Linked DNA regions of Homo sapiens. The protein of the gene in region 1 purifies or fractionates together with the protein of each later gene. This does not show direct contact. Each region holds a gene or a part of one and is shown in the gene's direction. Other genes may lie near its edges. The genes, in order: DIRAS2, FTO and UNC13B.

Region 1 (3,833 bases):
CTATAGATCATTACTCAATTGACGGTAATTTAAAAGCTAACATGTTCGGCGCCATCACCAACTAAGCGCTATCAAAAATAAATATACAAATGATCTCAGATTGCTGTGAGTTATGTGTCCTTCTCTTTCCTGCCATTAACTGTGGTGCTGTCTTGAACCTATTACTTAGTTCTTTATCAGAAAGACAAAAGGATTAGATCAAATAATTCCTGTGATTCTATGAAAAATAACCAGTGAGTAGATACGAGGGATCCAACTCACATGCAGCCTAGGGGTTTATTGTGGCAGAAACAAAGGAAACAGGTATGCCTGATGGGCATCATCATTTTGCACCACTACTAACTTCTATCCCAAGAAGTACTGCCCCCCCGGGTTTGCTTCAACCTTATTCTTGATTGCAGAGGTCAGCAACTTAGCCCGCAAGTCCCATTATGGGTCATTCAATTCTCATATAATTTCTTTTACTGAACAAGCAGCAGCAAACCCATTATAAAACTAATGAACAGCTAGTGGGCTATTCTGTACTATGCAATAAAATATATTTCACAGATCTTTTAGTATTATGCTTTACTGGTATGAGTATTTTCAATGTTTGTCTCTATTTGACACCATTAGATAAAGTTTAGGGTGAAATCTCATGCTTTATAATTGACCCATGAATACCGGATTCTTGAAACACAGAAATTAATGACCTTAATGAAAATATGTCCATTTCTTTATCTAATCCCTGAACACCTCCATGATCAGTGAGTGCTCGTGGGGTGGGTACAATTTCCATCACATGGTTCTCTGTCTCAGAAATTATGATAGGAGACTTAAAGAGGGCAGCGTTTTGTATGAGAGGATCTGGGGCAATATTTTTCTAAAGCTAATTAATGTCTGCAAAGTGATTATTTTTCTGAGAAAATAAGAACGCAAGAACTTTCCATTAGGCCTTCTCATAATAAACACACACACGCCCTTCCTCCTTTACCATCTTTAGATAATCATCAGAGCTCAGACAAAGGAGCCTTTGAAGGAGGAAGATTTCCTTCCTCTGTCATCCTTACACTCTGTTTTATTGGAGCACTTTTGTGCCTTTTGAGTTTGGGAGTTTCTCTCTAGAAGATGCGGAACAAAAAGGAAAAGTGATCAGAATCCAGGTTTCTTCATCGAGGGCAAATCCAGGTGGAGTCCACTCAGCTCTCTATTTGCATAAAAAAAATCCAGCTCAGTGCCATTTTTGTACAAACTTAGACTCATCTCCCCAGCCTTATCACCCAGCTACCTACCACCCCAATTACGTGCACACACACACACACACACACACACATGATCAATGGAGTATTTCATTGCCTCCTTGCCTATAAAACAATCATCTGACACTTAAAAAGGGATTGACTAAGCCTTTTGCTTCCTTCTCTTTACCTTTGTGCTTCTCTCTTGGGACCTCTTTGGCCTTCACTGGGTTCTTATTACAGAAGGAATGGTAGCAGACCACAAAATGTAAAACTGACATTAGCTTTTGAGTAAGGTCTGTGTAAATGTTTGCAAGCCAAGAAGAGATAGAACTACTGGATAATAGAAATGGCTGGGTAACCTAGATTTTGAAAAGAACTTGAATTTCTCTGAATATCATGAAAACCATGTGCTTATCTATTTTTTTAATTTTGCCAGATTTACATATAATGCTTTGTGCCTCTCTTTTTTGTTCTTCCATTCTTTAAATGCTAGTTTAAATTCCTCCACATACATAATAGTTTCAAGATGCAGAAATAAATCAAGTTGTTGTAACAAATATTTAAACATAAAAAACGAAGAGGTAAATATGGGAGAATTTTTAGTGGTTTCAGAGTAGGGGAGGACTTTTTAAGGATGAACTCAAACTGAAATACTAAAAAGGAAAAGTTTGTTAAATTGGATATACAGAAATTTTAAATTTCTGTCCAGAAGACAATTAAAAATAGATAACATCAAAGGAAAGATATTTGCAACATATTTCAGATGAGGCCTAATTTTTTAAAATACAGTGGTTCTCAAATTTTGTAAGCATCAGAATCACCTGATGGCCTTGCTAAGCCTGAGACTGCTGACTTCAAACCCATGCGACTCTGATTCAGCTGATCTGACTCAACGGGGAACAGGCTTTCTAACAAGGTCCCAGTGAAGGGGACAGTGCTGATCTTTCAAGCACAGCCGGAGAGCCACGGCCTTAATCTAAGATAATACCATCCCTGCAAACTACTAAAAACCGAGCAAAGAACAAGAACACACCGGTTTCAAAGATACAAATACCAATCACTTTTAACAGAAAAGACGCTCAATGTCACCCAAATTAAGCAAATGCAATTAATTCAGTAATGAGAAACAGACATCTTGTTTCAATGGAAGGGATCAAAGAGTTTGATAATACACCATATTATGCAAGGTTTGGGGAAATAGCACTCATACACCTTCATGGGACAGGTGATGGAGAACTTGATAGTAATTTTCAACAGCAACAGGCCATCTCTACCCAATTTGAAGTGTACCTACCGTTTGATTCTGCAGTTCCATTTACAGGAGTTTTCTCTACAGATAGGCTCAGAAACATGAAATATTTAAGTATAAGGTTTTCATTGAGCAAAAGACTGAAAATAGCAAGAAAGTGGTTAATAAATGATAGCTTATCCCTCAGCAGAGTCTTCTGAAGCTGTTAAAAAACACAATCTGGCTCTATATATACTAATATGAACAAATCTGTAGATGGCTCCTAACTTGCAATGTTTCAATGTATGATGTTTTGACTTTACAATGGTGGGACTACTACATACATTCGGTAGAAACTGTACTTCAATTTTTGATATTTTCCTGGGCTGGTGATATGCAGTGATATATTTTATGATATTCTCTCACTATGCTGGGCAGTGGCAGTGAGCCATAGCTGTTAGTTATCCTCATGATCACCAAGGGAAACAACTGATACTCTATAATTGACTATGTTGCCAGAAGACTTTGCCCAACTGTAGGCTAATGAAGGTGTTCTGTGCACGTTTAAGGTAGGCAAGGCTAAGCTATGGTATACAGTAGGTTAGTTGTATTAAATGCATTTTTGACGTGATATTTTCAACTTATGAGGGGTTTATCAGACTGTAGCCACATGGTAAGTTGAGGAGCAACTGTACATGAAACACTGTGTATACCATACTTCCATGTATTTGTCTATCTCTCTGACTAAATAGCTATCAATTGATATCTGTCTCTCTTTGACTATGTACCATTTTGTTAACACTTGATCACAATTCTGCTCCCTTAGCAATGACCACTCAAATCATTTAGTCACATGCTAAATGTTCCACTACCATTCAATTTATGCTTTTGACAAGAGACCATTTCTGGTGATTGAGAAAAAAATCATGTTGAGTAAGTTGCCATTGTGAGTTAATGTGAAACAATGAGCCAATGAAGTTACCACATTGTAGAAATATTCAAGTTTGTCATATTTTGTTGCATTTCAAACAAAATATTGTTGATTTTTGCATGGTAACTTTTTGGTGATATGTTTATTCTTACAGAGGCATTCTGTAAGAATATTCAGGGCCGGGCACCATAATTGCAAACCATCTTATCCACACCCTTGGCTTCCATCCCTACCTCAATGCAGGTAGCTCACGCCTATAATCCCAGCACTTTGGGAGGCCAAGGCGGGTGGATCACGAGGTCAGGAGATGGAGACCATCCTGGCTAACACCGTGAAACCCCATCTCTGCTAAAAAATACAGAAAATTAGCCGGGTGTGGTGGCGGGCGCCTGTAGTCCCAGCTACTCAGTAGGCTGAGGCAGGAGAATGGCGTGAACCCGGGAGGCGGAGCTTG
Region 2 (3,600 bases), on another chromosome or scaffold:
ATATATTTTCCAACTTTGATACAGTTAATATTTATTTATTTATCTATCTTTGAAATGGGGTCTCACTCTGTGGCCCAGGCTTAGGCTCACTTCAGCTTCCACTTCCTGGGCTCAAGCCATCCTTCCACCTCAGCTGCCCAAGTAGCTGGGACCACAGGTGCATGCCACCACACCTGGCTAATTTTTTTGTATTGTTAGTAGAGAGGGGATTTCACCTTGTTGCCCAGGCTAGTCTCGAGCTCGTCAGCTCAAGCAATACACCCGCCTGAGTCTCCCAAAGTGCTGGGATTACAGGTGTGAGCCACCACGCCCAGGCAGTTAATTTTTTTATGTGCTAAGAGGCTTCTCTATTAATTTGCTTGTGAATGGGTGTGTGTGTGTGTATTTAAATTTTTAATGGTTCTGCATTAATGTTTCTGCATTCCTGCCATATAGGTTGTACTTTTTTTTTCCAGTTTGTTTGCCTTTTAATTTTATGATTTATTTTATACAAAAATTTAAATTTTCAGATATTCACATCTATCAATCTTCTTTTTCAAAAAGTTTATTGATTAACTGTATATGTGTATAATTTACATACCATAAAATGCACGTTTTGAAATTGTACAATTCAGTGATTTTTGGTAAATTTCCAGAGGCATACAACCATCATCACAGTAGTTTTAGAACATTTTTAGCACCCCAAAAAGATCTCTCATGCCTCTTTACATTTAGTTTTCTTTCCTGCCCCAGCCAAGATCTCCACTCATCTGCTTCAGTCTTTTAAAGCTTTTATTCTTAGAAAGGAGTCTTGAGCACTTATGTGGAACCAAGTGATGTGGCTATAACAGATACTAATGCTATTTTCTTCTTCTTCTTTTTTTTTTTTTTTGAGATGGAGTCTTGCTCTGTCACCCAGGCTGGAGTGCAGTGGTGTGATCTCGGCTCACTGTAACCTCTACCTCCCGGGTTCAGGTGATTCTCCTGCTTCAGCCTCCTGAGTAGCTGGGATTACAGATGCCCGCCACCACGCCCAGCTAGTTTTTGTATTTTTAGTAGAAACAGGGTTTTACCTTGTTGGCCAGGTTGGTCTCGAGCTCCTGACATCAGATGATCCAGCTGCCTCGGCCTCCCAAAGTGCTGGGATTACAGGTGTAAGCCACCGCTCCAGGCCACTAGTACTATCTTCTTTTAGGAGCTTGTGATCTTACAGGACAGATTATTAAACTAATAATAGTTTAAATAAATATAGTTACAAATAGATAAGTGCTACAAAAGAGAAGTAAAGCGTGGGGAGTGATAACAGAGGGCACCTATTTGAGGGTGGAGATTCAGGAAAGGTTTCCTTTTTTTTTTTATTATACTTTAAGTTTTAGGGTACATGTGCACATTGTGCAGGTTAGTTACATATGTATACATGTGCCATGCTGGTGCGCTGCACCCACTAACTCATCATCTAGCTTTAGGTATATCTCCTGATGCTATCCCTCCCCCTCCCCCCACCCCACAACAGTCCCCAGAGTGTAATATTCCCCTTCCTGTGTCCATGTGATCTCATTGTTCAATTCCCACCTATGAGTGAGAATATGCGGTGTTTGGTTTTTTGTTCTTGCGATAGTTTACTGAGAATGATGATTTCCAGTTTCATCCATGTCCAGGAAAGGTTTCTATAAGAAAATGACCCAGGGATGGGAAGGACCATCCAGGTGTGGAGTTGGGGGAGGAGCCTGGGGGAAGTATTTAAGAGCTGGACACTTGAGGACTGCAGGAATAGAAGCACATATGGTCAGAGAGAAAGGGGACATGATCTGAGTGGGAAAAAAATGGAATATTTTCCCATGCCATTATTTTCTTTTTATGCTGTTTTTTATGTCAAGGTATTTACAGATGATATTTATGTGGTTATATGTTTTTCCTGGTCTATAGGGTTATAATTTCCCCATATTAAATATATCTTATGCAGTGTTGAGACCCAGTGTATGTTGAATAAGGGCAGCAGAATTTTAATGGGGGGTGGGCAGGCGTTTGTGCATATGAGTGCATTATTTTCAGTATTCCTTTCTTAGTCCCAGAGGGGAGTGTGTTCAGAAACAGAGTTCTTGGGAATTACCATACTTTTCTTTATTGTTTTATACTAAGGACCATTCAGAGAGTACTGGAGGTGTTAAGACAGTGTGAAGAAATTACCTTCTTCATCACTTCTTCATCATTGCTTTGAGTATACTGGGGCCTCAGGGACTTGCTAAGAAAGTAACCAGTATAGTGATAGAATTAGAGTTGCTGCTCATGGCTTCAGAATATTTGGTCTCTGCTTACAGGATTGCATTGCTTTCTTCATAAGCTATGTAAATAGAAAGTACGATATCACTGTTTCTGTTTTCCAATGGGGATAACTAAAATATGGAAACTCAATCCTTAATGGATCCCTGACAATCTCAATGACAATCCATAGTGGTATGCCACATGACTCTTCTCTTTGTCACTTTCAATTCATGGTCAACACCTCAGATAGGCATTTTGAGAAGCAGGGCAGTCCTACCACACTTACCTAGTAAAGTCATTTTTTCACATTCAGACTTGACTCATTCATTTTTCTTCTGCATACTTCCTCCCACTTTCTGCATGTCTTCTATAATATCTCCTGCACTCTGCCTCATTCAGAACAGGCTAGATTATGCTATAGTAACTGATAACTCTCAAATCTCAGTGGCTCCACACAATAATATTTCTTGTCCATTTTATGTATCATTTGTGGGTTGGCACAGAGTCACTACCCATTAAAGTAGCTCAGAGATCCAAGCAGCCACCAGCTGGTTGCTGTGGCAGAGGGGTGCAGAGTATGCTGGAGGGTCTTGCAGTGACAATGACATGTTCCAGGCTGGAAGGGATGGCCATCATTTTTCACTGGACAGAAGTAATCCCATGTTTCATCCATCCTGAGGGGACCAGGAAGTGTAATTTTACACTGGGCCCAAAAAGCTGGGTGGCAGAGGAGGAATCCAGAACTATTTGGCAAACAGCTCTAATGACCAGCATACATTCTTAGCTAGTGATTCACCTTAACTTCATTGAGAAAGTCAGAGCATTCTCTAACTACCACCCCTCCAAAAGAAACCCTAGAACGTACTCATCTGCCTACTATTATTACATTTATCATCCTATCTGAATTCATACCTTCTTTTTCCTTCTAGCCTATTCCAATATAAGAAGTATCTTCTCTCCTATCCACATATTTTTGATCACATACTCTTATCAGTAGATAAGCACATACAGTGACATCCTAGAAAGTGTTTAACAAGTGGCCTGTAGGGGGAAAGAACCAGCCTTGATTTTTAGTGTTTTTTGATTTCCGCAGTGTAAATACTCTCACTGTGGACAGTTTCAAGCCACCGTCACGGTGTTACTGAATGTGCAGTTGGAAAGAGATGCACACAGTGGGCTCTCATGAGCCAGTGTGGACTGACTCCAGCACACCACCAGTAGTGTGCTGGTGGTAGTACTCATGTACTCGTGTCTGTTTTATAATAATATTCATATTAAACCTATTTGTGTGTATATGTGTGTGTGTATATATATATATGCATACATATTTTAATAATGCTTGAGTTCTTTCATTTTATA
Region 3 (3,833 bases), about 55 Mb from region 1:
CAATTGCCCTACCTCAGCCTTCGAATAGCTGGGATTACAGGTGCACACCACCAGGCCCGGCTAATCTTGAACTTGTGGGGTCAAGTGGTCCGCCCGCCTCAGCCTCCCAAAGTGCTGGGATTACAGGTGTGAACCACCGCACCTGGCCTAGAATTAGGATTCTTAAACAACGACTTCCTAGGAGAGAAAATTAAAAAAAAAAAAAAAAAAAAAAAAGGAAACAGCCAAAACCACTTCCTATAAACTGTGCTCAGCCACCCGTAACTTTGTAGCTCTTTTCCAACAATATACACACCAAGGTCAAATCCTCTCACAGTGCAAGGTCATCTCTGGCACCCAAAGCCAAAAAGGTCAGGTCATGCAATACAGGAAAACAGAGCTTTAGACCTAAGAAGAATCTGCCCATGACTCTTGAAATCCCACAAAGCCAAGAGAACACCCCAAAAGGGGGTGAGTGGCACCTTTGTTCTAAATTCTTTTTTTTTTTTTGAGATAGAGTCTTGCCCTGTCACCCAGGCTGGAGTGCAATGGCACGATCTCAGCTCACTGCAACCTCCGCCTCCCAGGTTCAAGTGATTCTCCTGCCTCTGCCTCCTGAGTAGCTGGGATTACAGGCACGTGCCACCATGCCTGGCTAACTTTTTTTGTATCTTTAGTCGAGACAGGGTTTCATCATGTTGGCGAGGCTGAGTCTCGAACTCCTGACCTCGTGATCCGCCCACCTCGGCCTCCCAAAGTGCTGGGATTACAGGCGTGAACCATGGCGCCCGGCCTAAATTCTTTAAAGAGGTTCAAGTCATTAGAAGCCTTCTCTCGATTTTTTGGTAATGCAGATGGCAAAGGGTGAAGGAGGTATAGGGTGGAAGAAAAGTAAACAAAAGAACAATTGAATTTTTTTTTTTTTTTTTTTTAATTTGAGACAGAGTCTCACACTGTAGCTCAGGCTGGAGTGCAATGGCTCGATCTCCACTCACTGCAACCTGCGCCTCCTGGTTCAAGCAATTCTCCTGCCTCAGCCTCCCGAGTAGCTGGGATTACAGGCACCCGCCACCATGCCCGGCTAATTTTTTTTGTATTTTCAGTAGAGACAGGGTTTCACTATGTTGGCCAGGCTGGCCTTGAACTCCTGACCTCGTGATCCGCCCGCCTCGGCCTCCCAAAGTGCTAGGATTACAGGTGTGAGCCACCGCGCCCGGCCTAAGAACAGTTTAATTTTTAAGACCAGGAAGCAAACACAGAAACCAAATACATGGTTTTTTGTTTTCTGTTTGTTTTTTCTTTTGCAGCTGTGAGGAATTTTACTCAAATTAGATAGGCCTTGTTACCCATAATTTGGAATTCTCACTTGGATTTGACCAAGTGAAGTAGAGTTGGTCAATGGGAAAAAGACAAACAAAATAAAAAAAAACCCAACAATATGATCACTGAGCACTCTAATGGTAAGCAGAAATTAAGACCAGCTGGTTGTTAACTTTAGCCAAGACAAAAATCCCTATTCAGCTACTTACCTAGGGGTGCGTCTCAGGCTGAAAACGGCTGTCTACCATCCCAGAAGTAGGAAAAAAACCCCTCATCTTCCCTGTTGGAAGTGAGCTCAAACTCCATAAAAGAGTTACCTGCCTTCCCTCGTCATGGAAGCAGGAAAACTTGCCTTCCTTGTTGGAAGCAAGTAAAACTCCAAAATAATAATAATAATAATAATAATAATAATAATAATAGAGGGAGTTGTACAACAAAATGAACTTTAGATCTCGACCAAATTTTGGGAGATCAGGGATTCTCTGGAGGGGGTGCTCCTAGACCTTAGCAAATTGTCCTGTTGGTTTGAGCCATGGAGTTAGCTCATGTTGGTACCAAGCATGGATAGGAGATTTGTCAAAGATCAGAGGTATCTCCACTCACAATCCCTCCGTGGTTACCATCCTTCATTCAGTAAATATTTACGGACTGATTACCATACACTAGGCACTATTCCAGACATTGGAGATACAATGATGAGCATAAAAAACGGTCTAGATAAGAACTGAGGTCTCCAGACATACTTTATGCCCACTCAGTTTTGTCTTTTGCCCTAGTTGCTAAACAAAACTTAACTTTGCTGTGCGGTGCGACTTCGTTAACTTAAAATTACAGGCTGTCAGCTATGACCGCTAGACTCTAAGAAAGTCCAGTGGAAATCCTTCAATGAAAAGAATCTGTTCTTGGGTGGAAGCCCCGCTCATGCAGGAGGAACAGAGGGCTTCCATTCTCGCGTCACACAACTGAGGGTCAACCCCTTGCTCCCTGCAGTAAGCCTGATTAGTGGGCGGAGCTTCCTTCAGGATCGCAAGAAAGAAAGGAGGAAGGGGACCCCGCCTCCTACGTGCTCGCGGGGGGGGGCGGGGTCGGTGGACTGGGCGTGAGTTAATTGGCTGGGGGGCGGGGCACCACGGGTTGGCTCCGCCCAGGCGCTCGCGCGGATCCCGGGTGGAATGACGGGAGGGAGTCCCGGCAGCTCCTACCTCCCAGCGATGGCGTCGCTGTGCCGCGCCCAGTCCCCAGCCTGCCGGCCGGTACTCACCGCTACCCGGAGTTCGCTCAGACGGTGAGATTTGGGGCGGGTCCGAGGCAGCGGCGGGACGCTACCTGCGACCGGGACCATGAGGAGCTGCCAGACCCGTGGGGCCGGTAACGAGAGCAGTCGCGGCACCTGCTGAGAGGAAAGAGGGAGCGGTCCGGCGCGGCTGGGGCGCGGCAGAGGCTTGCCCGATCCTCGGCCATGTCACTGCTCTGCGTGCGCGGTGAGTGCGCGGACTGAGGCGGGGAGGCGGGGTGTCGGCGTAGAGGTCCCCGCACCCTTCCAGTGGACGTCCGGTGACCGTCTCACCCAAACTTTACATCCCGTCCGTGCTTTGGGGGTCTATTATTTTGGCAATCACTTAACAATCACTTGAGTTCTTTCCACTTTCTTGTTTTCCCCCAAGCTCCTGCAAGGGACGATTAGCTCTCCATTCTGGTAGCCATGTGACAATGTTGTTGGACTGCAGGCTCAGATCCTATTAAACAGTGACTGGGGTTCTCTAGTGAGAGTGGACGAGTTAGAAGACCGCGGATGGTTGGTGCCTGTGAATGGTGGGCAGCCTCTCATTCTTTTCCTCCTCCTCGCACCGTAACGCTACAGTATGCTTAGTAGCAGGTTCTTTTTATCACACTTTGAATGCGTTAGTGGTACAGCTGTCACATCCCTTCTATTGCTTGTCTTGTCCCCTGCCACTTCCCTGAACACTAACCGGTAGTATAGGCTAAGATTATTCTTCTGTTCCACTTGGGAGGATGTGGTGACTGCTTTTGAGGATAAGAGGTATGATTTATTTTTATTTTTATTTTAGCTTGCCTCACAGTAACTCAAGGTGAAGGGCCATTATTGCTTTTCCCCTGAGGACACTTGACCCATCTAAGAAGATATCTTAAAGCAAGAGCTTTGGGGTTTAAGATGAGGCATGGTACGCGAACTAAGTTCTATGTGGGTAGAGACTGTTTCTTATTAGTTTTTGTATTCCTGGTGTCTGACGTAGTAGAAGCTTAATGCTGGTTTTGAATGAATGCAAGTACTGTGACTTCAGAGAGATTATCTGATCAGGAAAACACAGGGTTTGGATTAGCCATTGAATTTGATCTCGGGAAATTCAGGTTACAGCCTATCATATCTGATGTGTCTTGATTATGAATGAGAGAGCATTTATCAACTAGAGCCTTTACCTGATATCTTTTACTGGAGAGTTCATATTTCTTTTGGCTCTACAGATTAGAAGCATTGTTGTTGTTTGTGATTTCTCCAATAACGATGTTTCCCC

The links.
Region 2: the proteins of DIRAS2 (region 1) and FTO purify together in Homo sapiens (affinity purification with mass spectrometry; 2 studies listed by BioGRID and IntAct, with this or other methods). This does not show direct contact.
Region 3: the proteins of DIRAS2 (region 1) and UNC13B purify together in Homo sapiens (affinity purification with mass spectrometry; 2 studies listed by BioGRID and IntAct, with this or other methods). This does not show direct contact.

Annotation. Positions count from the first base shown.
Region 1 is NC_000009.12:90,636,116-90,639,948, reverse strand, and holds part of DIRAS2 (GTP-binding protein Di-Ras2), read left to right. Parts: intron 1-3,833.
Region 2 is NC_000016.10:53,819,156-53,822,755, forward strand, and holds part of FTO (alpha-ketoglutarate-dependent dioxygenase FTO), read left to right. Parts: intron 1-3,600.
Region 3 is NC_000009.12:35,159,526-35,163,358, forward strand, and holds the start of UNC13B (protein unc-13 homolog B), read left to right. Parts: upstream 1-2,483; 5' UTR 2,484-2,758; coding exon 2,759-2,780; intron 2,781-3,833. UniProt on the Homo sapiens protein: Plays a role in vesicle maturation during exocytosis as a target of the diacylglycerol second messenger pathway.